Linked DNA regions of Homo sapiens. The protein of the gene in region 1 purifies or fractionates together with the protein of each later gene. This does not show direct contact. Each region holds a gene or a part of one and is shown on either strand. Other genes may lie near its edges. The genes, in order: RXFP1, ATP8B2, ABHD6, SLC12A4, NOTCH3, ST7 and PIGQ.

What was found.
Region 2: the proteins of RXFP1 (region 1) and ATP8B2 purify together in Homo sapiens (affinity purification with mass spectrometry; one large-scale study listed by BioGRID and IntAct). This does not show direct contact.
Region 3: the proteins of RXFP1 (region 1) and ABHD6 purify together in Homo sapiens (affinity purification with mass spectrometry; one large-scale study listed by BioGRID and IntAct). This does not show direct contact.
Region 4: the proteins of RXFP1 (region 1) and SLC12A4 purify together in Homo sapiens (affinity purification with mass spectrometry; one large-scale study listed by BioGRID and IntAct). This does not show direct contact.
Region 5: the proteins of RXFP1 (region 1) and NOTCH3 purify together in Homo sapiens (affinity purification with mass spectrometry; one large-scale study listed by BioGRID and IntAct). This does not show direct contact.
Region 6: the proteins of RXFP1 (region 1) and ST7 purify together in Homo sapiens (affinity purification with mass spectrometry; one large-scale study listed by BioGRID and IntAct). This does not show direct contact.
Region 7: the proteins of RXFP1 (region 1) and PIGQ purify together in Homo sapiens (affinity purification with mass spectrometry; one large-scale study listed by BioGRID and IntAct). This does not show direct contact.

Annotation. Positions count from the first base shown.
Region 1 is NC_000004.12:158,528,382-158,531,881, reverse strand, and holds part of RXFP1 (relaxin receptor 1 isoform 1 precursor), read right to left. Parts: intron 1-3,500. UniProt on the Homo sapiens protein: Receptor for relaxins. The activity of this receptor is mediated by G proteins leading to stimulation of adenylate cyclase and an increase of cAMP.
Region 2 is NC_000001.11:154,339,025-154,342,524, reverse strand, and holds part of ATP8B2 (phospholipid-transporting ATPase ID), read right to left. Parts: intron 1,672-3,500; coding exon 1,463-1,671; intron 46-1,462; coding exon 2-45; intron 1-1. UniProt on the Homo sapiens protein: Catalytic component of P4-ATPase flippase complex, which catalyzes the hydrolysis of ATP coupled to the transport of phosphatidylcholine (PC) from the outer to the inner leaflet of the plasma membrane.
Region 3 is NC_000003.12:58,240,792-58,244,291, reverse strand, and holds part of ABHD6 (monoacylglycerol lipase ABHD6), read right to left. Parts: intron 1-3,500. UniProt on the Homo sapiens protein: Lipase that preferentially hydrolysis medium-chain saturated monoacylglycerols including 2-arachidonoylglycerol. Through 2-arachidonoylglycerol degradation may regulate endocannabinoid signaling pathways.
Region 4 is NC_000016.10:67,955,138-67,958,637, forward strand, and holds part of SLC12A4 (solute carrier family 12 member 4), read right to left. Parts: intron 2,908-3,500; coding exon 2,761-2,907; intron 2,660-2,760; coding exon 2,605-2,659; intron 1-2,604. UniProt on the Homo sapiens protein: Mediates electroneutral potassium-chloride cotransport when activated by cell swelling. May contribute to cell volume homeostasis in single cells. May be involved in the regulation of basolateral Cl(-) exit in NaCl absorbing epithelia.
Region 5 is NC_000019.10:15,187,496-15,190,995, forward strand, and holds part of NOTCH3 (neurogenic locus notch homolog protein 3 precursor), read right to left. Parts: intron 1,934-3,500; coding exon 1,778-1,933; intron 1,680-1,777; coding exon 1,494-1,679; intron 854-1,493; coding exon 740-853; intron 500-739; coding exon 386-499; intron 1-385. UniProt on the Homo sapiens protein: Functions as a receptor for membrane-bound ligands Jagged1, Jagged2 and Delta1 to regulate cell-fate determination.
Region 6 is NC_000007.14:116,960,001-116,963,500, reverse strand, and holds part of ST7 (suppressor of tumorigenicity 7 protein), read right to left. Parts: intron 1-3,500. UniProt on the Homo sapiens protein: May act as a tumor suppressor.
Region 7 is NC_000016.10:572,968-576,467, reverse strand, and holds part of PIGQ (phosphatidylinositol N-acetylglucosaminyltransferase subunit Q), read right to left. Parts: intron 2,403-3,500; 5' UTR 2,394-2,402; coding exon 1,705-2,393; intron 630-1,704; coding exon 498-629; intron 335-497; coding exon 214-334; intron 1-213. UniProt on the Homo sapiens protein: Part of the glycosylphosphatidylinositol-N-acetylglucosaminyltransferase (GPI-GnT) complex that catalyzes the transfer of N-acetylglucosamine from UDP-N-acetylglucosamine to phosphatidylinositol and participates in the first step of GPI biosynthesis.

The DNA.
Region 1 (3,500 bases):
GAAAAAGTGCCTCATTTTAAAACCAAGCTACTTTGAATTAGCAAATTTAAATGTTGTATTATTTTATGTAGGAGTCATGAGCTCTGAATTTTAGTCATAGAAATATAAAATATAATTTTTACACATATGAGGTTTCTGGTCTGTAAACATGAAAATGTTTACACTATATATCGTACCTGGATTTGGTATGCTTAATGTTAATGATGGCATAAGATTTAAAGTGTGTGTGTGTAGTAGTAGTTTATAACATTTCCTTCCACCCTCAAACTTCATGTCAGAGAATGCTGGCATTACCTTTGTCAACATTCCCTGAAGCCCTCCACAACCCTGTGCTTTCTGAGGAAAAAAAGGACAAAAACCGAAGGGTGGATTCTCCTGAAAAAATTAGAATAGAAGTAAATTTTGTGTTCAAGATGACCCTGTGCAGTAGGGGAATATGTGTGTCAGGAGAGGATCAGGAGTGAGGGGCTGAGTGATTGGAGGAAACAGAGGGGCAGAGAGTGAGGCCAAGGGCCTTGGATCAAAGAGAGAGAAACAGTGAAGAGTCAAAGGCAGACCAGGTGCAGTGGCTCAATCCCAGTACTTCAGGAGGCTGAGGTAGGCAGATGGCTTGAGCCCAGGCGTTTAGGACCAGCCTGGGCAATGTAGTGTGTTCTCCTCTCTATAAATTTTTTTTTAAATAGGTAGGCATGGTGGCATGCACTTGGAGTCCCAGCAACTCGCGAGGCTTAGTTGGGAGGATTGCTTGAGCCAGGGGGCAGAGTTTGCAGTGAGCCAAGATTGCATCACTGCACTCAAGCCTGGGCCAGGAGAGCAAGACCCTGTCTCAAAAAAGACTCAAAGCCTCTAGGGGATTGAAGAACAGAAGAGGGCGTGGAGCTTTCAAATTGAACCTGCTAACGTTTACTAGCATAGAAACTTTGAAAAAAGGTGCCCAAGAGCCAGATGCGCTACAAAAAGCTTTGTACAGATTTTTTCCATTAAAATGGATTTGATAGACAAATGACTTGCCACATTATTTTGGATCACCACTGAAGACGAATGCTCAGTGGTTGAGAAAATATCAACAAAGAAAAACAATCCCTCTTTCCTTTCCAGGGAACTTAAACTGTTGTGCTGCAAGTTCACAGGATCAGGGGTAACGACTGCAATTAGAAGGGCAGAAATAAAAATCTAAATTTGACTTTGCTAAACTGGCCACCTCTCTTGATCTTAACACAAAAAAGGGAGGTTAAATGGAGGTTAAGAAGCTAACAGAAAGCATGACTGATGATGTCACTCTGTCTAAGTTTGAAATGTGTGAGAAAGTAGAAACATTTATAAACCATGAGGCAGTTCTGCAATTTCCAGCAAATCAGCCACAACTGAGAAAGTAAAAACGGCAAATCTTCTGGACCATTGAAAATGAATCAAACATTTCTAGCCTGCTCTGGGAAAAAACCATTAAAATATCAAAAGGCTAGGGTGAGCAACAGAGGGTGAGAGAAGAGGATAAAAAGAATCTGAGGTTTTATGAGTGAAGGTAATGGTAGAGTGGATTGTGCTGTATCTCAGAAGCCAATGCGTGATGCACCTGAGAAGAGTTATTTTCATTAACTTACACTTGCAATATGTGCCTGGATAAAAGCTTCCAAAAAAGCTTCCTAGGGCAGCTTATCTGATTTCTTTCACTAGGTCCAGGCACACACGCATATAAATTTTGTTCAAAATTTGTCATTTCCTATCTATTTGCATGTTCTATTTTATAATGTTTTAATTTAAACTCTGTAAAGTAAAATTTATCTGTTTAAATGGCTGCAACTACAGGAAACTGCAGGGTCATAACTTGCTTGTATTATGAGGATCAGGTGTTGGAACTAATTTACACAACACTGAAAAAAATCGGCCAAAAATGTCCATGAACCCAGGTAACTGCAAAATGAGGGAGGGGTGTAATCTGCAAGTAGTATGTTTAACAGGCAGCTGTTCTCTATGAAAGTCCTAATTAATGAGGAGGAAGTATTTATTAGGGAAATGAAATGAGTAGAAATCAGAATTAGGGTTGCAAGATTTGGGACCAAGACAGGAGAGTTTCTCTTTGTGGGTATTTTGTCAGAAGGTGTGGTGAGACTAAGGAATACAGAGAATCATTAAGATAGGAAGGAGAAATTAAGCGCTAAGGGAGAAAGAGGAACTGCTTAATTAGAACTGGAAGCCAGTATCTAGGTTGCTTAGCCAGGAAAGGGAAAGCTGCAGGGAGTCCATTTGGCACTAAATAGACAATCTGGGAAAGAAGCAAAGGAGGACAAACCCAAGCATGTAGCAGGATCAAAACTTGAAGGAGTTTGGGAGCAGTGGCTCACACCTGTAATCCCAGAGATTTGAGAGGCTGAGGTGGGCGGATGGCTTGAGCCCAGGAGTTCGAGACCAGTCTGGGCAACATGGTGAAACTCCCATCTCTACAAAAAATACAAAAATTAGCCGGGCGTGGTGGCATGCACCTGTGGTACCAGCTACTCAGGAGGCTGAGGTGGGAGGATCACTTGAGTCCAGGAGGTTGAGGCTGCAGTGAGCTGTGATCACACCACTGCACTCCAGCCTGGGCCACAGAGCAAAACCCTGTCTCATAAACAACAACAACAACAACAACAACAACAAAAAACAAGCAAGCAAAAAAAGAGATCAGACTTTCATGATAGCAGAGTTTATGACCAGTGTGGGATTTATGTTTTACCATATCAGGAATGAATATCTTGGGGTCGTTTAACATAACAGTGAGGATGCTCTGTGTTGCTCTGTGAGTGTCCTTTCAATCCCCACAAAGGTGAGGATTGAAACATGTTACTCTATCTCAGGAAACTGTGTGTGCTGGGGTGGGGAGAGGGAAGAAAACAGTAAGGTTAGGGATATTCGACTCCCTACGACCAGGGCCTCCACTGTCCGCCCTCTCTGGCACCTGCATAGGCAGAAAGACAGAACAGATGGCATTCTTTTTTGGTGGGAAAGAAGAGGTTATAGGAGCGGTGAAGCACACAGGTATTTGGTGCCTACATTATCTGGGGCACCCAGAAAAAAGAGAGGATTTCTCTGGACACTAGAAGTGTCTGAGAGATTCTGATAGTCTATAAATTACTCCTGAGAAGTTGGCAAAGTTTCTTCTGCTGTAGCAATGCTGTCTCATTTTTCAACCTGTGGCACATGAAGCCTCTCTCACCTTAGAGGGGTGACCCCAAGGGCCAGATTCATGATTTGCATGGCATGTGATGAAAAGGGCTGCATCTTTAGAGATGACTCTATTGTCTGGGGAATAGGATAGGAGCATGGACTGGAGAGGAGATATTAATAGTGAAGACATCCACTTGGTGTTGACTTACTCTGAGCTTTTTTTTTCTTTTTCTGACACAGGGTCTTGCTCTGTTGCCTAGGCTGGAGTGCAGTGCACCATCTTGGCTCACTGCAATCTCTGCCTCCCAGGCTCAAGCGATCCTCCCACCTCAGCTTCCCGAGTAGCTGGAACTACA
Region 2 (3,500 bases), on another chromosome or scaffold:
CCTCTCCCAATTCAGCTTTGTGTCCCAGGACGTCAAACACATCACCTACATACAGCCAGGGCAGAAAAAGAAGCAATGTCAGAGCCAGAGAGCTCCAGAGCATGGAAAAACATCTCCAATGCAGAATCCCCGTAGGCACTGAGCCCCTCAACCCTAATCGCTGAGCAGCTGTCACAGTGTGAGTCACTCAGTCACATTGCTGACTCGCGGGATAGGAGGCATCAGGCACCCTAGATTCCAGAACCCCAAGGCCTGGCCATGAAAGAGCCCCGGCACCCACTGCTCACCATCCCTGTCTCTACCCTAGGCGGCACCCCCCTCAGGGCAGCTCCAATTCCACACCTCCCAGGCCTCCTTGCACCCATTAGACCTGAGCAGCAGACAAGGCTCAGACACTGACCGAAAGGCATCAGTCAGTACAGAAAGCAGTCACAAGAGGGGTCCACACTCTGCATAAAAGTCAGCCCCACATGCTGCCCCAGGCCATCCCAGCAGCACAGCCACGGGCCACACTGGGAAGTCCAACCACAGCCACATTCCACAGACTCACAAGGACCCTGAGCAGCAACAGGGGAGAGTCTAGCAGGGTTCCGCCTGGCCAGGATGCCCAGAGGCCAGTGTCTCACTTCAAACAGCCAAGGAGCTCCCCTAATTCCTGGAGCTGAGACCAGGGTCAGGGCATCAGGAGAGGACAAGGGGAGGACTCTCAGAATCTAATTTTTTTTTTTTTTTTGATAGACTTTCACTCTTGTCGCCCAGGCTGGAGTACAATGGCGCAAACTCGGCTCACTGTAACCTCCACCTCCTGGATTCAAGCAATTCTCCTGCCTCAGCCCCCCGAGTAGCTGGGAAAACAGGCACCTGCCACCACGCCCAGCTATTTTTTGTATTTTTAGTAGAGACGGAGTTTCACCATGTTGGCCAAGCTGGTCTCGAACACTTGACCTCAGGTGATCCACTGCGCCCAGCCAGGATCTGCTTCTTGACATGGGACACAGAATGGACCTCTTCTTTGTGTGTGGATTTTTCTCGAGAGACAGGGCCTCATTCTGTCGCCCAGGCTGGAGTGCAGTGGAAGATCATGGCTCACTGCAGCCTTGACCTCCCAGGCTCAAGTGATCCTCCCATCTCAGCCTCCTGAGTCACTGGCCAGCTGAGACCACAGGTGCATGCCACCATACCTGGCTAATTTTTAAATTTTTTGTAGGGATGTGGTCTCACTATGTTGCCCAGGCTGGTCTCGCATTCCTGGGCTCGAGCAATCCTCCCACCTCAGCCTCCCAAAGTGCTATGACTATAGGCATGAGCCACCGTGCCTGGCCAGGATGGACCCTTTCTTCTAGGCCCCTCAGACCCAACTAGGAAGGAAGAAAAAACCAATGTTAAGGAAACTGTGGGGCCCCAGTTCCACTGTCCTTCCAGGCGAGGTGCAAGCCCCCAGTCCCCAGTGGTGCCACCATACCATAGCTGTGGCCATTGATGGAGCACTTGTTGAAAACCATGATGTTCTGGGTGAGGGTGCCCGTCTTGTCGGAGAAGATGTACTCCACCTGGCCCAGCTCCTCGTTTAGGGTGGTGGTGCGGGCTTCTGCAGGCGTCCGCTTCTTCATGCAGAACATCTTCTTATCCCAGTTGATGAAGTAGCTGTGGCCCAGACGGATGACCTCCACACTGCACAGGGGACAAGAGGTGAGGCTTGGGTCGGGAAGAAGAGGAGGTGCCCCACCCACATGGGCCTTCGCTGCAGGCCCTCCGCCTGGGGAGAGACAAGAACGGAGAAGACACCTGGGCACAGAAACCTGGGTGGGAAAGGGCAAGGAGAGCCTGAAGGTGGAGCCGGCTGCACACAGCCAGCAGAGGAACGCCCCGACCCGACCCTCCTGATGCTCTCCAGACAAGAAGGTGCAAAGGGCCTGGGTGGGCAGGACAGACAGCAAAGGAGGAAAAGGGGCTGTAGACAAGGCACTCGGCCAGTTCTTACCTCAGGACTAATAATACAGAAACCATGCAGAGAAAAACAAGAGAAAGTGCCAGAGGGAGGGGAGAGAAAAGAGAGAGAGAAATAATGAGGGTGCTGTGCATGCCACAGCAACACAGACGCCACCTCAAAGAGGGGTGGCACCGGGGAGGGGAAATGGAGAAGGCTTGAAGCCCACTCGTCACTGTCCCACCACAGGCTGGGTGCGCTCCTTCCACCCTGGGCTTGGGGCACTACATTCCTGATTCTGAACACCGGGCAGGGCTGAGGTGCTGACTCCAGAGGGAGAGGGCCCTGGGCATCTGCAGAACACCACCACTTCACAATGGCACAGCGCATTGTGGTGGTTGTTGTTTGCTTGTTTGTTTTTTGAGCTAGGGTCTCTGTCACCCAAGCTGGAGTGCAGTAGTGTAATCATAGCTCACTGTAGCCTCAAACTCCTGGGCTCAAGCAATCCTCCCACCTCAGCCTCCCTAGTAGCTGGGACTACAGGTGCACACCACCACACCTGGCTAATTTTCATTTTTTGTAGAGATGGGATCTCGCTGTGTTGCCCACACTGGTCTTGAATTCCTGAACTCAAGAGATCCTCCCGCCTCCACCGCCCAAAGTGCTGGGATTACAGGCGACAGCCACCATGCCTGGCCCCTATAGTGCCTTTAACATCTCCAGGTCTGTTCGTATCCTCTTCTTTGCTAATCATATGCACTGTTAGCATTTCCAGAAAGGGCCATGTTTAGGTCCAGTGCAGCCGAGCAATGGGGCCCTATCGAGAGCCCTGCTTCCCACCTGACTAAGGCACCTATCAGGATCCCATTACCAGGCAAATGGGAATGTCTTCACATTCCAAAGGGCCTTTTCCTCACACAGCTCTTCAACCCCCTCTTAGCCTCCCGAAACATACACACTGTGACCTGATGAGACTCAGAAAGAAAACTGCTTTAGCTGCTCCCAAGGGCTTCAAGTGAACTGAGATACAAAACACAGATAGCAAAGCCCATAGGTGGGAAAACAAAATTAGGTTGTAAGCACAAAGGCATTTAAATAGTAATGCAGAAGGGAGTGGCAACAGTCACAATGAGCAGGCTACCACCCAGTAACTGTACAGTCACTTAAGTTTAAAATGTATCTTCTAAGCCAATATCTTATATCAAGACATCCTATTAAAAGGTGAGACAAGTACTCCTGTTCCTGTTTCACGTGGGAAAACTAAGATCAAGTGAGGCCCTGAGTGACCGTGGATTTTCCTGAGGTCACATGGCCAGTGAGGAGGCAGGACTAAACCCAGAACCTCCCAACTCTCCTCTTCACACCCTGGAAAAGCCTAAACTATATTCTCTCAGCACAGAAATGCTGTATCTTCTATTTATTATCACCAGCAGTAAGATTGGGGGCTGGGAGAGAGTTGAGGGCTATTTGGGGAATCTGTATGAACAAAAGATGGGAGACAGGACAAGTTTTCAGCACCTCCATAAAACATTTCCTTAAAAATGTCACAGGTTCCCTTATCTCAAGTGCAAGG
Region 3 (3,500 bases), on another chromosome or scaffold:
CATCCCTTCTCTTTATCAATTGTTGGCAGATCTCACATTGCCAGATCCTATTATTGCTTTGACACATCATCCAAGCAGTTCCTTAACATCACTGGCTTTGATTTCAAGAGATATTGCCTCTCTTAAGAGTTGCAATTTTACTTTCCATTGTTTATGTCATATTTGCAAAACATCTGACGACCAGGCAGAGACGCAGAGCCAAAATATGGATGCTCCTGGAGCCTGGCTGACCACCAGGGTTGAAAACAGAGGGATAGATGATGAAGTAGGACTTAACTTTGCACATGGCAAGTCCATTAATGAATATTTTCCTGTTATGAAAACTTCTGCTTCCCAGCCAGGCACAGTGGCTCACACCTGTAATCTCAGCACTTTGGGAGGCCAAGGCAGGTGGATCACTTGAGGTTTGAGACCAGCCTGGACAACATGGTGAAACCCTGTCTCTAACTAAAAACACAAAAAAATTAGGCAGGCGTGGTGGCACACACCTGTCGTCCCAGCTACAAAGGAGGCTGAGGCACAAGAATGCCTTGAACTCAGGAGGCAGAGGCTGCAGTGAGCCAAGTTCGTGCCACTGCGCTCCAGCCTGGGCAACAGAGTGAGACTCTGTCTCAAAAAAAAAAGAAAACTTCTGCTTCCCATCCACAATCTGGAAACTGCGGAGAATCAGATACTAGATACACTTAATAATCTGACTTTCTCATGACTATACCTGCACTGGCTTTCTGTTTTTTTCTCTATTTTCTCCACTCTCTACCTATAAGACGTCCTCTGTCTACCCCCAGTTCTCCTTTAAAAAATCTTTCTGGTGGAGCTAGAAGTTATCTCCTTCACTTAGACTTTCCTCAATCCCCCAGTAATCTCTATTTCATCCTCCATGCCCCACAGTATTTGGTATGAACACTTCTCTCTCAAGACACTTGAGATTTGTATCTCGTGATAAGAACACTGGCTGGGCGGGACTGTAAACTAGTTCAACCATTGTGGAAGACAGTGCAGTGATTCCTCAAGGATTGAGAACTAGAAATACTATTTGACCCAGCAATCTCATTACTGGGCATACACCCAAAGGATTATAAATAATGCTACTATAAAGACACATGAACACATATGTTTATTGCAGCACTATTCACAATAGCAAAGACTTGGAACCAACCCAAACGTCCATCAATGATAGACTGGATTAAGAAAATGTGGCACATATACACCATGGAATACTATGCAGCCATAAAAAAGGATGAGTTCATGTCCTTTGTAGGGACATGGATGAAGCTGGAAACCATCATTCTGAGCAAACTATTCCAAGGACAGAAAACCAAACACCGCACAGTCTCACTCATAGGTGGGAATTGAACAATGAAAACACTTGGACACAGGGTGGGGAACATTACACACCGGGGCCTGTCGTGGGGCAGGGGGATGGGGGAGGGATAGCATTAGGAGAAATACCTAACGTAAATGACGAGTTAACGGGTGCAGCAAACCAACATGGCACATGTATACATATGTAACAAACCTGCACGTTGTGCACATGTACCCTAGAACTTAAAGTATAATAATAATAATAACAATAAAAAGAACACTGGCTGGACCCTCCACTAGGCTGCAAGCTCCTCAAAAACAAGTCTGACCACATCTTTGCCTCTGTCACAGTACTTAGCATACACTGTGCCTTGCCCTTGGCAGACACTTGGTCAATGCCAAATGATAAGCTGGAAAGCTGAAACAAAACCAACTGCTGACTGAGAAGAAACCACTCCCTGCACCCATCACACAGCCTTAGGGGGAGAAGTCATGAATCAACAGGGCTGCCCCACCAGTGTCAATGCAGGCATTCCTTCACTCTGCTCATATGGCCACAAATGAAAGAAACATTCGTCAGAGCAGTATAGTTTTAGAGGTTTTAGTTTGGATGGGCAGCTGGGTCCTAGAGAAATTAAGCAAGCTGCTCAATGTCACACAGCTTTCTCTTCCTCTCTGCTAATTCACTGGTGGTTGGCAGTGGCTCTCAGCATGATGTTGAAGGCCACTTAGGATTTGGTGCTGCCCATCTCTCAAGGGTCATCTTCTTCTATCACCTGCCTATTGCCTGCCCTCCATCCCTTCCAATAATGATCTGCAACCCCCAGACATGCCGTGCTCTCCCACACCTCCGGGACTTTGACACACCTGCTCCTCTCTCCCCGGCACGCCTATTCTCCCTCTCGCCTGGCGAGCTCCAGCCCATCCTAAAAGTCTTAGCTATTAAAGCACTGCCGCTCTCTGTAAATGCTCCTGACAGTTCAGTTTTGCAGCTCAACAACCTGGGTTCAAATCTCTGCTCTGCCATTGACCACTGTGACTCTGCTCTGGTCACATGCTTGCCATGTGACTGTAGCAAGTGACCTAACCTCTTAGAATTCTACCTCAGTGTGGGGATGAAATGGGATGATGCAAGGAAACTGTTCAAAGCAGTGACAGGCAGATACTAAGCATTCACTCTGCACTGCTGGGATCTTGCCTGACTTCACAGGCAGAGTTAGGCAGCCCTGCCATACCTCCACCACCCTGCATGGCCACTGCTCAGGCCTATTGAGATGCCTGAGTAGTCTCTGGGCAGGGTCTGCATTGCCATCTTTATACTCTCAGAATCCAGTCCCATCCCCAGACTTCATCATATGTAACGTATGAATCCTTTTCTGGGTATATCACAAGGCAAACACCCAATGCCAACAGCCAAACAGCCACAGCTTCTGGAAAAATGCCTAAGAGCAAAGGCTGCTGTTAATATATTACTTAAAAAGAAGAGGATCCCAACCTGCAGCAGTGTAAGAACCTCTGCCCACACCTCCTGAGTGCTGTCCTGCTCCCCTGAATCAGCAGTTTCCTTGGTACAGCACCAGAGAGCCGCACAGAAGCTCATGACAGACCCCAAACCCATCCAGCCACAGGCAGCAACACCCCAAGTGGCCTCTAGGATTGGGAAGCGTCAAATAGGATCCAGAGGGTTTCTGAGGGTCCGGTTTAGGAGAATACTTTGATCTTCTTGGAAGAGGCAACTACATGCAAGGTCAGAAAGGACTTTAATGTTGTGAAAATCATATCCAGTTTCAGTTTCTCAACTGTGGCACAAGTGACACTGGAGGCCATATAATTCTTTGTTGTGGCACCGTCCTGTGCATCGTAGGACGTTTAGCAGCATCCCTGGCCTCTACCCACTTGATGTTACCTACAAGTTGTGACAACCAACAACAACAACAAAATTTCAAAATTATCCAGGTTTGGCCGGGCGCGGTGGCTCACATCTGCAATCCCAGCACTTTGGGAGGTAGAGGCGGGCAGATCACCTGAGGTCGGGAGTTCGAGACCAGCCTGACCAACATGGAGAAACCCCGTCTCTACTAAAAATACAAAATTAGCCAGGCGTGCTTGTGCATGCCTGTAATCCCAGCTACTCTGGAGGCTGAGGCAGGAGAATTGCTTGAACCCGGGAGGCGGAGGTTGCGGTGAGCCGAGATCGC
Region 4 (3,500 bases), on another chromosome or scaffold:
TGCCTTTGTTAGTCTGACTCCTCCAGACCAGAGGAGGGACTGTCTCATCCAGCCTTTTGGCCCTAAGGCCCCGCACAGTGCCTGCCACCAGGTGAGTGTCCACGGCTCCCTGCCCTGAATCTGTGCTTCTATCAAAGTCTAACACCCTTAAAAGACTCAGAGAGTCATGACCAGGCCCCAGGGTGACAAGCACAGGGGGACAAGAGTCATCTCATGTTGCTGGTTGTATCTGCTGCTGAGACAATGTCTCTGGTGAAAATCTGGGAACAGGGATCAAGAAATTCTTTCAAAGAGTCAATCTTGGCTGGGCGTGGTGGCTCATGCCTGTAAGCCCAGCATTTTGGGAGGCTGGGGTGAGTGGATTGCTTGAGCTCAGGAGTTCCAGACCAGTCTGGGCAACATGGCGAGACCCCGTCTCTACTAAAAAAAGGAAATGATAAAAATATACATTTTTAAAAAAAGGCCGGGTGCAGTGGCCCACATCTGTAATCCCAGCATTTTGGGAGGCTGAGATGGGTGGACTGCCTGAGCTCAGGAGTTCGTGACCAGCCTGGGCAACACGATGAAACCCCGTCTCTACTAAAATACAAAATTAGCTAGGCGTGGCGGTGTGCACCTGTAGTCCCAGCTACTCAGGAGGCTGAGGCAGGAGAATCGTTTGAACCTGGGAGGCAGAGGGTGCAGTGAGCCGAGATCATGCCACTTCACTCTAGCCTGGCGACAGAGTGAGACTCCGTCTCAAAAAAAAAAAAATGTCAGCTGGGCACAGTGGCTCACGCCTGTAATCCCAGCACTTTGGGAGGCTGAGGCAGGCAGATGACTTGAGGTCAGGAGTTTGAGACCAGCCTAGCCAACATGGTGAAACCCCATCTCTACTAAAAATACAAAAATTAGCTGAGCATGGTGGTGCATGTCTGTAATCCCAGCTACTCGGGCGGCTGAGGCAGGAGAATCGCTTGAACCTGGGAGGTGGAGATTGCAGTGAGCTGAGATCGTGCCACTGCACTCCAGCCTGGGCGACACACTCCGTCTCAAAATAAATAAATAAATAAATAAACGAAAAGTCAATCTTTTTCATGCCGTAATCCACCTCCAGGACCCTCTCCTAAGGGAACTGCTGGGGCATGAACAAAGATTCATGTTCAAGGATGTTCATGACAACAATGTATACAATGGTGAAAAAGTGGAACCCACAGGCAGGAGAATAATCACATTAATTAGGTTATGGTGTACCATGGAGAATCCTGTTTTCAAAAAACCATTTTCGGCAGGGTGCAGTGGCTCACACCCGTAATCCCAGCACTTTGAGAGGCAGAGGTGGGTGGATCAGTTAAGGTCAAGAGTTCGAAACCATCCTGGCCAACATAGTGAAACCTCGTCTCTACTAAAAATACAAAAATGTGGTGGTCGCCTGTAATCCCAGCTACTCAGGAGGCTGAGGCATGAGAATCACTTAGAATTGCTTAAACCTGGGAAATGGAGGTTGCAGTGAGCTGAGATCATGCCACTGCACTCCAGCCTGGGTGACAGAGAGAGACTCTGTCTCAAAAAAAACCCAAAAAACCAAAATCAAAAAACTGTTTTCAACACTTGGGAAACATACACACACACATACACACGTAAACATATACACATAAATGCATATGTATATATACACACATATACTTTTGGGAAATACACACAAACACACACACACATATATATATATATATATACAATTTATGTAAATAGAGTGTGCGTGTGCAATACTTCATAAGACCCTAAGACTTATATATACCAAAAGGCGAACAGTAGTGATTTCAGGATGGTGGGATTATGGGTGCTTTTAATTTTCCATTCTATACCTTTCTGCACTTTTTTATTATTTATTTATTTATTTTGGAGATGGAGTCTTGCTCTGTCACCCAAGCTGGAGTGCAGTGGCATGATCTTGGCTCACTACTGCAACCTCTGCCTCCTGGGTTCAAGCTATTCTCTGCCTCAGCCTCCCAAGTAGCTGGAATTACAAGTGCCCACCACCATGCCTGGCTAATTTTTTTTTTTTTTTTTTGCGACGGAGTCTCGCTCTGTCGCCCAGGCTGGAGTGCAGTGGTGCAATCTCGGCTCACCGCAAGCTCTGCCTGCCAGGTTCACGCCATTCTCCTGCCTCAGCCTCCCGAGTAGCTGGGACTACAGGCGCCCGCCACCACGCCCGGCTAATTTTTTGTATTTCTAGTAGAGATGGGGTTTCACCGTGTTGGCCAGGATGGTCTCGATCTCCTGCCCTTGTGATCCACCCACCTCGGCCTCCCAAAGTGCTGGGATTACAGGCATGAGCCACCGCGCCTGGCCTTTTTTTGCACTTTCAAACCCTCTTACAGTAAACATACATTGCCCTTTTTTTTTCTTTTTTGGTATTGCTTTTATATTAACAAAAACCACAATGGCACTCTCCAACTCTGTCAAGCAGGAAAGCTCCTACGTGGGCACTGTCCTGGCATCAGGGATTGGGAGCCCACTACAGAACTGCTTGGGGCAGGGGTGTGCTATGGGGGTTCCCAGGTAGGTCAAGGCAGATACTGGGTCCTTTTCTCTTCCACCAGGCCTTGGGTGGCGCTCACTGACCTGGAACCACACCGTTGGTGGCGATGGCACTCATGGAGATGGCCGTCAGCAGGGTCTGTGGGAAGGAGGGCCTGGGTGAGCGGCTCAGCTGGGTGGGCTCTGTGGGGGCAGCCGTGGCCCATGCCCAGCCCAACCCTCCCACGCCAGGACACTCACACAACAGCAGCAGATAAGCACGATGAGGAGGGCCTGTAGCACACCTGCTGTGCCCACCATCCAGGTCAGCCGCAGGAAGAGGATAACCCCAAAGATATTCTGCAGGCAGGGCAGGTACACCCCCATGAGGGTGCCCATGCTGGGTGCCTATGCGAACACAAAGGGAGGGGGCGAGTAGAGCATCAGAGGGATGCACCATGGAGAGTCAGCCCTAGTCACTCAGCAGGCCCCCTCCCCCAGTGGGGCCCCAGGGAACACAGAGAGTAGGGGTGACAGCTAGGATGTCTCTATTGACTTTCATATAGGAAGACAGTTGAGTCTGGGAAGGTGTAAAACCTGATTCTTTTTAAAAACCCACATTGAACTTTGGAACCTTAACTCTCTCTCAAGGTACTGCCTCCTTCCCTTCCTCTCTTCTGTTAAACTTCTAGAAAGAGAGGTTTGTCTCAGATCTCCACCTTCTCACCCAGCAGGCCCTAAGTCACCCAAGCCAAAGTCCCAGAAGTCATCCCTGGCCCTCCCTCTCAACCCCCAACTCTAGTCCCGGTAGACACTAACTCCTACCCAGTCTGTCTCCCTGCTGCCCTGAGATCAGCCTGCCTTGTCCCAGCCTTAGTCCCTTGAACCTGGGGCACCTGGGTGGTACCCTCCTGAGCCTGTCAACCTCTCCACACTCCAGCCCACTCTGCTGCTATAGTAGGTCTCTGAAAGCAAGTCTAATCTCATCACCCATGCTGAAA
Region 5 (3,500 bases), on another chromosome or scaffold:
TTCCACTCCACCCCACTACAAGCTCCAGAATTTGTCCCTAGCCAAGACTCTCCCACAGTTAAATCCCGCCCCCAGCTGTGGCCCCACCTCCAGCCCTGTTTCTGCCCCACCCTCCACTGGAGATGGGAGCACATGGCAGGTGCCAGGGGAAGGTATTGGGCCCTCCCCATTCAGTTACAGGCACCCTGTGCCCAGCCCAACACTTTGGCTCCACACGTAGCCTTATGTCAGTCTATATGCATTATTGGCTCCACCCCCCAACTCTGTCACTGGGTCCTGCCTTGCTACAACCCCGCCCCCAAGCTCTCCCCAAGTCTGTTATTGGCCCTGTCGCCCACAAGCCCCGCCTCCTGATTCTTGTCGGACTGTCATTGGCCCGCCTCACCCTCGGCACAGCGGCACTCGTAGCCATCGGGCTGGTCCACGCATTTGGCGCCATTCCTGCAGGGCGTGCTGGCGCATTCGTCCACGTCCAGCTGACACGTGGAGCCGCTGAAGCCTGGGGTGGGGAGTGGGATGAGCAGAGGCCCAGAAAGGGTGAGAGCAGTACACCCCTCTCCAGCCCCGCCTTGTTTGGGTGGAAAAACCCATTTACTTGGATTTAAATTAACTTCAATGTTTCATAACATATGGTTTCTATTGTAAGTTATCCGCTAACGTGGTTTTACAGGTTCCCACCCTGGAGTTTTTGCCCCTTCCCAGACATGTCTTTTCGGGCTCCCTCTCCTGAGGTCCTCACCCGAGGGGCAGGTGCAGCTGAAGCCATTGACTCGGTCCTTGCAGACCCCACCGTTGACACAGGGGCTACTCTGACACTCGTCAATGTCCACCTCGCAATAGGTTCCTGTGAAGCCTGGGGCAGGGAATAGGGCTTAGGAAAGCGGGGGCTACCCTATGGTGTGAACGGGGTGCAAGGAAGGAGGTACTTCCCTTCCTACTCATCGACAAATCCCCCGAGCCTTCGTCCCCACCTCTACACTCCCAGCCCAACCTTAATTTTCAGCCACAGGCTGGACTGTCACCCAGCCGTGGTCCCAACTGGCCCAAGGCTCATGGGTGTCCGCAGAGGCCTTGCCTTCAAACCCCTCCTCCTCTCCCCAGTCCTCAGACTAAGCCCTTTCCCCAGTCCCCAGCCCCCAGCCCCAGGGCCCCCCATAGCCTTTGCCCAGGCTTACTGCAAGCTTGTCTGCAGGCTTCACCTTGACCTCACAGCAGCCCCGACTCTGCCTCTCTATCCCCAACCCCTTCCCGAGTGGGTCCTAAGGCCAAGAATACTCCCAGCCCACCTGAGGTTCTACTGACTCCATTTGACCAAGCCCCCAGAATCACACAGTATTCCCTTCTGGTCCTGACCCCACCTCCTTCCAGGCTTCAGTCTCTAAGGGTCCCACTCCAAACCCACTTACACCCCATTCTGCTCAGCTCCCCATCCGCGGGCTTCTCTGTCCCCGCCCCCTGCCTCAGGACCCGCCCAGGCCACGCCCACCACCCACCTGCCATACAGATACAGGTGAACTGGCCTATGCGGTCGAGGCACGTGGCCTGGTTTCGGCAGGGCCCCGACAGACACTCGTTGACATCGGTCTCACAGCGAGGTCCAGTGTAGCCACGACCGCACTGGCACAGGAAGGAGCCCTGCGTGTTCACGCACCTGCCCAAGTGCTCGCAGGGGTTGGCGCCTGCCGGATGGAGTGCGATCGGTGTGGGCGTGGCTGGCCGGGACCCCCTCCTCTCCCCTCTTTCCCAGCCCATTCACAGACGATGGAGCTCCCCTCACCGATAGAGCACTCGTCCACATCCTGGTCACATGCCCCACCCGTGAAGCCGGGAGGACAGGTGCAAATGGCCCGGCCGTTCACCGGATTTGTGTCACAGATAGCATCCTCGTGGCAGGGGTTGCTGACACAGGCGTCATCCAGGTGACACAGGAGGCCTGGGAAGTGGTAAGCAGAAGTCATAGGCAGATCTTCCTGCTCTGCCCAAAAGGCCCACACCCCTTGAGTATTGTTTTGTCGTTGTTGTTGTTTTGTTTTGTTTTTTGAGACGAAGTTTCGCTCTTGTTGCCCAAGCTGGAGTACAATAGCGCGATCTTGGCTCACTGTAACCTCCACCTCCCAGGTTCAAGCGATTCTCCTGCTCAGCCTCCCGAGTAGCTGGGATTACAGGCATGTGCCACCACGCCCGGCTAATTTTTTGTATTTTTAGTAGAAACGGGGTTTCACCAAGTTAGCCAGGTTGGTCTCAAACTCCTGACCTCAGGTGATCTGCCTGCCTCAGCCTCCCAAAGTGCTGGGATTACAGGCGTGAGCCACCGCGCCCGGCCTGTTGTTTTTATTAAACCTAAACAGTATTTAGTAGCTGCTTTTTTAATCCATTTATTATGAGAACTATCAAACATACAGAAAAGTTGACCATTCATATACCCACCACCTAGATTCAACTATTGTTAGCTTAATCTACCAATCTTCTTTTCTAAACCATTTAAAAATAAATTGCAGACCGGGCACAGTGGCTCACGTCTATAATCCTAGCACTTTGGGAGGCCAAGGTGAGTGCATCGCTTGAGTTCAAGAGTTCAAGACCAGCCTGGGCAATATAGTGAGACCCGTCTCTACAAAAAATACAAAGCTTAGCCGGGCATGGTGGCGCACGCCTGTAATCCCAGCTACTTGGGGGACTGAGGTGGGAGGATCACTTGAGCCCAGGAAGTCGAGGCTGCAGTGAGCTGAGATCATGCCACTGTACTCCAGCCTGGGTGACAAAGTGAGACTCTGTCTCAAAAATAAAATAAAATAAATTGCAAACATCCACATATTGTTTTAAAACCTTTTGACTCTTCTGATTACAAAAGGGTCCTACACTCCAGCCTTTGCTTCTGTAATACCCTCTGCCATGTATGCCCTCTTTCTATATCCACGTTCCCCTCCTAAACATGTTCTCTGATCTTTGCCACTTCCAAAGGTAACTCCCAGGAGTTCCCCATTCCAATGGCTTCTGCCCTGAGCCATGCATCAGTGCAATGTCAGCCTCCTCCCAAGCCTCTCCCAGGCTTACACTTCCCCACTAAAGCTGCCTCCAGCATCATCTTTTTTTCTCTCTCTTTTTTGTTATACACGGTCTTACACTGTCTCCCAGGCTGGAACGCAGTGGCTCAGTCTCAGCTCACTGCAACCTCCACCTTCTGGGCTCAAGCCATCCTTCAACCTTAGCATCCAGAGTAGCTGGGACTACAGGCATGCGCTACCATGCCCAGCTAATTTTTTGTATTTTTGGTAGAGATAGGGTTTTGCCATGTTGCCCAGGCTGGTCTCAAACTGCTGAGCTCAAGCAATCTACCCGCCTGGGCCTCCCAATGTGTTGGGGTTACAGGCGTGAGCCACCACACCCAGCCTACCAAGTTTTTGTAGAGATGACAAAAACTCACTATGTTGTCCAGGCTGGTCTCAAAGTCCTGGGCCCAAGCGATCCTCCCATCTTGGCCTCCCAAAGTGCTGGGATTA
Region 6 (3,500 bases), on another chromosome or scaffold:
GCAATTAAACAGTGATACCACAGCCACAGCAACATAAAATACTGCTACAGCTAACTAACTGGGCCTGTCAGTTCCTTATTTTAGCACAGTAGGTAGTATAGGAATGCCTGCTAGTTTTAAATGATGGGTAATGGTAACACATCAGCAACTGTCTTGCCCCACTGTAACAAGAAAAATGAGTTTCATTACAAGTTCTCTCTTCTGGAAAATCCAAAGCCCTTTACAGATATCTTTACAACAACATCTCAAATACAATAATGATGTTGAGAGATATTATTCCACATTTACAACAAACAGACAGTAGTGTGGTTTCAAACAATCCAATAACCCATTATCTTGCTTGGTGCAGTTTTAGAAAGAATATCGAGGATAAAAAAGATTCTATTATATAGTTTAATGTGTCATTTCACTGTGAGAGCCAAGCCTATAGAATATAGAATATAGCCTTCTGAGGAAAAGACCTACTATAATGCCTCAGATTTAAATAGTATTTTACAGCCTACAAAGCACTTATTCATTTTACAGTCTCATATGAAGATTGCATTCTAGTCAAGGGACCAAGTCTATCATCAAGCTGTAAGGCCAAAGTCAGTAACTATCTCAACCACACAAATATTCATAGAATGCCCAGACATCCAAATAGGAAGAGAGAAAGTCAACTACCCCTGTTTGCAGACGACATGATCCTATATCTAGAAAACCCCAGAGTCACATAATTAAAGAGCTTCTGCACAGCAAAAGAAACTATCATCAGAGTGAACAGGCAACCTACAGAATGGGAGAAAATGTTTGCAATCTACCCATCTGCCCAAGTCTAATATCCAGAATCTACAAGGAACTTAAACAAATTTACAAGAAAAAATCAAACAGCCCCATTAAAAAGTAGGCAAAGGATATGAACAGACACTTCTCAAAAGAAGACATTTATGTGGCCAACAAACATAGAAAAAAGCTCACCATCACTGATCATTACAGAAATGCAAATCAAAACCACAATGAGATACCATCTCACACCAGTCAGAATGGTGATTATTAAAACGTCAGGAAACCATAGATGCTGGTGAGGCTGTGAAGAAACAGGAACGCCTTTACACTGTTGGTGGGATGTAAATTAGTTCAACCTTTGTGGAAGACAGTGTGGCGATTCCTCAAGGATCTAGAACTAGAAATAATACCATTTAACCAAGCAATCCCATTACTAGGTATATACCCAAAGAATATAAGTCATCCTACTATAAAGACACATGTACACATATGTTTATTGCAGCACCATGTACAATAGCAAAGACATGGAACCAACCCAAATGCCCATCAATGATAGACTGGATAAAGAAAATGTGGTACACGTACACCATGGAATACTATACAGTCATAAAAAAGGAATGAGATCATCTCCTTTGCAGGGACATGGATGAAGCTGTAAGCCACCATCCTCAGCAAACTAACACAGGAACAGAAAACCAAACACTGCATGTTCTCACTCATAAGTCAGAGTTGAACAATGAGAACACATGGACACAGGGAGAGGAACACCACACACCAGGGCCAGTCAGGGGGTGGGGGGGTGAGGGGAGGGAGAACATTAGAAGAAATAGCTAATGCATGCAGGGGTTAAAACCTAGATGACGGGTTGATAGGTGCAGCAAACCACCATGGCACACGTATACCTACATAACAAACCTACACATTCTGCACTTGTATCCCAGAACTTAAAGTAAAATTAAAAAAAAAAAAGAAAGAAAACCCCATAGTCTCAGCCCAAAAGCTCCTTAAGCTAATAAACAACTTTAGCAAAGTCTCAGGATATAAAATCAATGTGCAAAAATCACTAACATTCCTATACACCAACAACAGTCAGGCCAAGAGCCAAACCAGGAATGCAGACCTATTCACAATTGCCCCCCACCACACACACACACACACACACACACACACACACACACACGTAGGAATACAGCTAACCATGGAGGTGAAGGATCACTACACGAAGAACTATAAAACACTGCTCAAAGAGATCAGAGATGACACAAGCAAATGGAAAAACATCCCATGCTCACGGATAGGAAGAATCAATATCATTAAAATGCCCATACTGCCCAAAGCAATTTACAATTTCAATGATATTCCTATTAAACTACCACTGACATTCATCACAGAATTAGAAAAAACTGTTTCAAAATTCATATGGAACCAAAAAATAGCCCAAATAGCCAAAGCAATCCTAAGCAAAAGAACAAAGCTGGAGGCATCATGCTACTCGCTACTCATCTTCAAACTACACTACAGGGCTACAGTAACCAAAACAGCATGATACTGGTACAAAAACAGACACATAGACCAATGGAACAGAACAGAGAACCCAGAAATAATGCTGCACACCTACAACTATCTGATCTTCGACAAATCTGACAAAACAAGCAATGGGAGAAGGATTGCCTATTCAATAAATGGTGCTGGGATATCTGGCTAGCCATATGCAAAAGATTGAAAGTGGACCCCTTCTTTACACCATATACAACTGAAGATGGATTAGAGACTTAAATGTAAAACCAAAAACTATAAAAACCCTGCAACACAACCTACATAATACCATTCAGGACACAGGAATGGGCAAAGATTTCATGATGAAGACACCAAAAGCAACTACAATAAAAGCAAAAATTGACAAATAAAATCTAAACTAAAGAGCCTCTGCACAGCAACAGAAACTATCAACAGAGTCAACAGAAAACCTACAGAATGGAGACAATTTTTGGAAACTTTGCATCTGACAAAGATCTAATATCCAGCATCAATAAGGAACTTAAACAAATGTACAAGTTAAGTACCTCATATTATCTGTATGAATGGAGTTCAGGGTTCTACCAATGTGGAAAAAAATTGTCTGTGAGCAATGACACAGTAGTACAAGAAAGATTTGGTTGGGAAATTTTTCAGAATAATATTGGCAGGCAAAATGAAACTTAACAGAATTGTAACTCGAAGTGATTAGAAATACTTCAGCACAATTTTATGTGTCTGCAGTGGCTCACGCCTAGAATTCCAGCACTCTGGGAGGCCGAGGGGGACAGATCACTAGAGGCCTGAAGTTTGAGACCAGTCTGGACAAGATGGCGAACTCTGTCTCTACTAAAAATACAAAACTTAGCCGGACATGATGGCATGCACCTGTAATCCCAGCTACTTGGGAGGGTGAGGCATGAGAATCACCTGAACCCAGGAGGCAGAGGTTGCAGTCAGCTGAGATCCCGTCCCTGCACTCCAGCCTGGGCAACAGAGCGAGACTCTGTCTTAAAAACAAAAAAACAAAACAAAAAAAAAAGAATCCCAGCGTATTTGGAGGGTGGTGATCTAGAAAAAGAGAGGTGGAAGTTCAGATTTGAGGGGTAAGAAAGAGCCATAGCATCAAACTTTGTAAATGAAGGTAATACACTTAGATTGTATTTTCAATGCAATGGAAGCCACTGCAGGAAGTCATACAAAATCTGGACTTGTATTCA
Region 7 (3,500 bases), on another chromosome or scaffold:
AGGAAAGGGGGGTGTACCTGCGAGGCCTGCCCTGCCCAGGCCCCAGCGCCCCTGGAGTTCCTGCTTCTGGTTCAGGGGAGGGCCGTGTCTCCAGAGCATGGAGAAGGTAGAACTGGCTTTGTGGGGCGGTGGCTCTGGCCCGGGAAGGCTCTGCTGCCCAGGAGGGGTCCCCACGCCCACCCGGGACACCGGGCTCCACCCCAGTCCACTCACGTCAGCCACAGGAACGAGGGCGTCGGCCAGATGCCCGATGCGGCTTCTCCCGTGGAGCCAGGACAGCAGCATGAGGCCCAGGGCCACGTCCAGCAGCACAGAGGCCACCGTGTTGGCCTTCCTGGAAGGGAGGTCCGGCCCGGCCGGCATGAGGGTGGCCAGCACAGCCTGGGGCCGCAGGAGGAGGCCTGCCTGGCCGGAGGGGTCAGCGTGGTGCAGAGGGGGATGGAGAAGGGGCCAGAGGGCACGCACCCAGCCCTGCAGAGACCAGGGCAGGCCCACACCTCATCAGCTGGGCAGGGTTCTCCGCCTTCCGTGTACTGAAGATTAGCGTGAGGTGCTCCAGCCGGTGCCGGAGCTGTTCGCACGTGGAGAGTTTGCTCCCGAGGAAGGACAGGGGCCAGAGCTTGAACACTCTGCGTGGGAGTGGAGAGGAGTGATGTGTCCCTCTCCAGATCCTCCTCCCACCGTCCCCCACTGTGCAGGGGACCACAAACACCCAGGCCACACTCCTGAGCTCAGCAGGACAGGGGGCAGGTGGGAGGGGCCCTCGGTGGCCCAGGTGGTGGTAGGCAGCGCTCAACGCGCCCACCTCACAGTGCACGTGACTAACACGGAGCCTGGCCTCCTCGCAGGTGCTGACCCCGGGCCACCTGGTCACCACATGCTCCCAGAGCCGGTGCCAAGAAGCGCCTGCCAGCCAGCAGCAACTCCCACGGGCCCAGGGCCTCGCCCCGCCGACAGGGCCCAGAAAGCTGCCCGGGGTCTCCTGGGCTGGCCTAGCTTCTCACCCCAGGCTTCCAGAGTATGCACCCCCGGGTCTAAGGCAGGGGGCAACTGCAGGTGACCCCTAGCTGCTCCCCATGGGGCACCTCCGCCAGGCAGATGAGGTCCCCTGTGGAAGGGGGCCCTCTGTTCTCAGCCACAGCTCGGGGCTACCCCCGTGCCCCTCAGGGCCCTTGGGCTTCAACTGACCCTTGGCCAGCAGCACCTGTGATTGTGGAGAGAAGCAGGGCCTGTAGACCACTCCCCCAGGCACACGGGGCCAGCAAGTGGATGACACCCCCACAGCCCATGAGCGCTGCAGTGTCCAGAGGCCTGCTGGGGGCACAGGCAGGGCTACAGGGAGGCCAGCGGGCCTGTGTGCCCTCAGGAGCACCCCCAGGCAGCAGTAGTCATGTCTGTGCTCACCTTCTGATTTCTCTTTCAGGGACCTAAGCCACTGAGGTTCACCCTCTACACCTTCTGGGAGGGCCCCTGGCAATCCCTGAGGCTGCCCAGAGACCTGGCTCTACCCCAGGGGTGAGGGACACCCTCTGAGAGGCGAGGGTTGGGAGAGCAGGATGGGGCCAAAGCCCGGGCTGCAGGAGTGGGAGGGGGCCCGGGCCCAGGAAGAGCGCATCTGGGCCTCTGTGCCCACTGCAGACAAAGGGATGGGCCAGCACTCATGGGACCCCACTCTTTGCCACCTGCCTGTCCCGGGACACCTACCGGCAGGCACTGACAGCTGAGACCAGCGACAGCAGGCTGGCCAACAGCAGGCAAATGGGTCCCGAGGCTCGCCTGGCCAGCTCCGCGAGGATGCTGGCCTCCACGCCCTCCGACTGCCAGTGGCTCAGCCGCACGGGGCCCTCATCAAAGCGGTCACTGCGGAAGAGCACCTCACTGCGTGCTACCGTGTCGAAGACGGCAGCCAGGCCCCCCGTGCTGGCAGTGGTGGCTCCAGCCTGGCGGTCGGGCAGGACGGTGGGCAGGTGTAGCTGTGACAGCAACACCTGGCGCTGGTCATAGAAGATGAGCATGACCTGGTCCTCACCAGGGGCACCGGGGGCAGTGGGCGCTTGCCGGTGGGTGGCCTCGCAGCTCCAGAACGTGCCGCCTCTCTCCCGGCACAGCCGCAGCCAGGGCTCATGGGGGAAGACAGCACCCAGGCTCTCCAGGAAGCGGCCCAGGCTCTCCTCGGGCTCCTGCCGGCAGTGGCACCAGGTGCCCAGCACGGCCACGCCCACCTGGCTGGCCTGCCGCACCTGGGCCAGGAGCTGCTTGACCTGGATGGGGATGAAGGGAAAGTGCAGGACCGCCAGGACCACGGCGCTGCTCTGCTCCGGCACCCACCGTCCCACCAGCAGCCCGCTGTCCGTCGAGACGCAGCACGTGGGGAAGAAGGCCTTGAGCACCATGCCGGGAGGCTGGAAGAGAAGAGGAGAGGCTCGGCTCAGAGCTGCTGCTGCCCCCCCACCGTGGGCTGCGGGATGTTGCACAGACGGCCTGACAGGTGCAGCCACAGGGCCCCAGGTCGGGGCACCTCAGCTTCAAGTTCGGTGGTGGACGCCGTAGGGCTCCTTGGCTGCCGCCTCGCGTGGGCCATGCTTCTCCAAGGGGCAGCCAGAGTGCTGGCCCCAAGTCCACCCCAGGCCCAGCTCAGCCCCACCCGCACGAGGCAGGACGCACATGCAGCCACCAGGCCTGCCCTCCCATTTCCAGGCCGGCCCAGGGCACGGCCTCCTCGGCACCACCTGACGCGGCTGTGGGGCCGAACCGAACTCCAGGCTTCTTAGTTTTAAGAAACCTGATTAGAGAGGTGTGCTTAAAGGTGTAGCACGAGGAGAACTGTACAATCTCATTAGCAAGGTCACGCCAATTGAAACCTTGACAAACCATGATTCACGTATTAAGCAAGAATAAAGATGAAAATGTAAAATGATGTGCTGCTGGGCTGTGGAAACTACCTCGTGCGCACGGCGGGCAGCCCCCCAGAAGGTCCCTGCCTCCCACAAGCCCCTCCCTGGGGGCAGGAAGGACCTGCCTCGTTGCTCAGGGCACACAGGGCTTCGGCCTCCACTCTGACCCCCGCCCACGGTGGCACCCGGCAGTGCCTGGCCCTCCCTGACATCCCCACAGCCACCCCAGGGCAGGGCTCCCTCAGGGAGCATTTTCTCTCCAGGATATATTTCTCCAACGACATGGGTGCCTAGAAACGGGGAGAGAGAGGCTTACAGGTCCCGGAGGTGTGGAGAAACTGCATCCTGCACTCTCAGGCTGAGGGACACCAGCCTTCCAAGGTGGCTGTTGAGTAGGAAGCCACCTGAGCTACCGCGGTTCCCAGGCCCTGGGCCTCTCCTCCCCCTTTCTCACAGGCCCCTGCGGAGCCATGCAGCCAGCTGGGGCTCCTTCTCCACTGATGCCTTCCCTGGCGGGGCCCCACAGGGCAGGAGGACTCCCTAGCGGTGGGGGCACTACTGGCCGGCTGGCTGGGCCGCTCGCCTTCCTCAGACACAGAAAGCCCC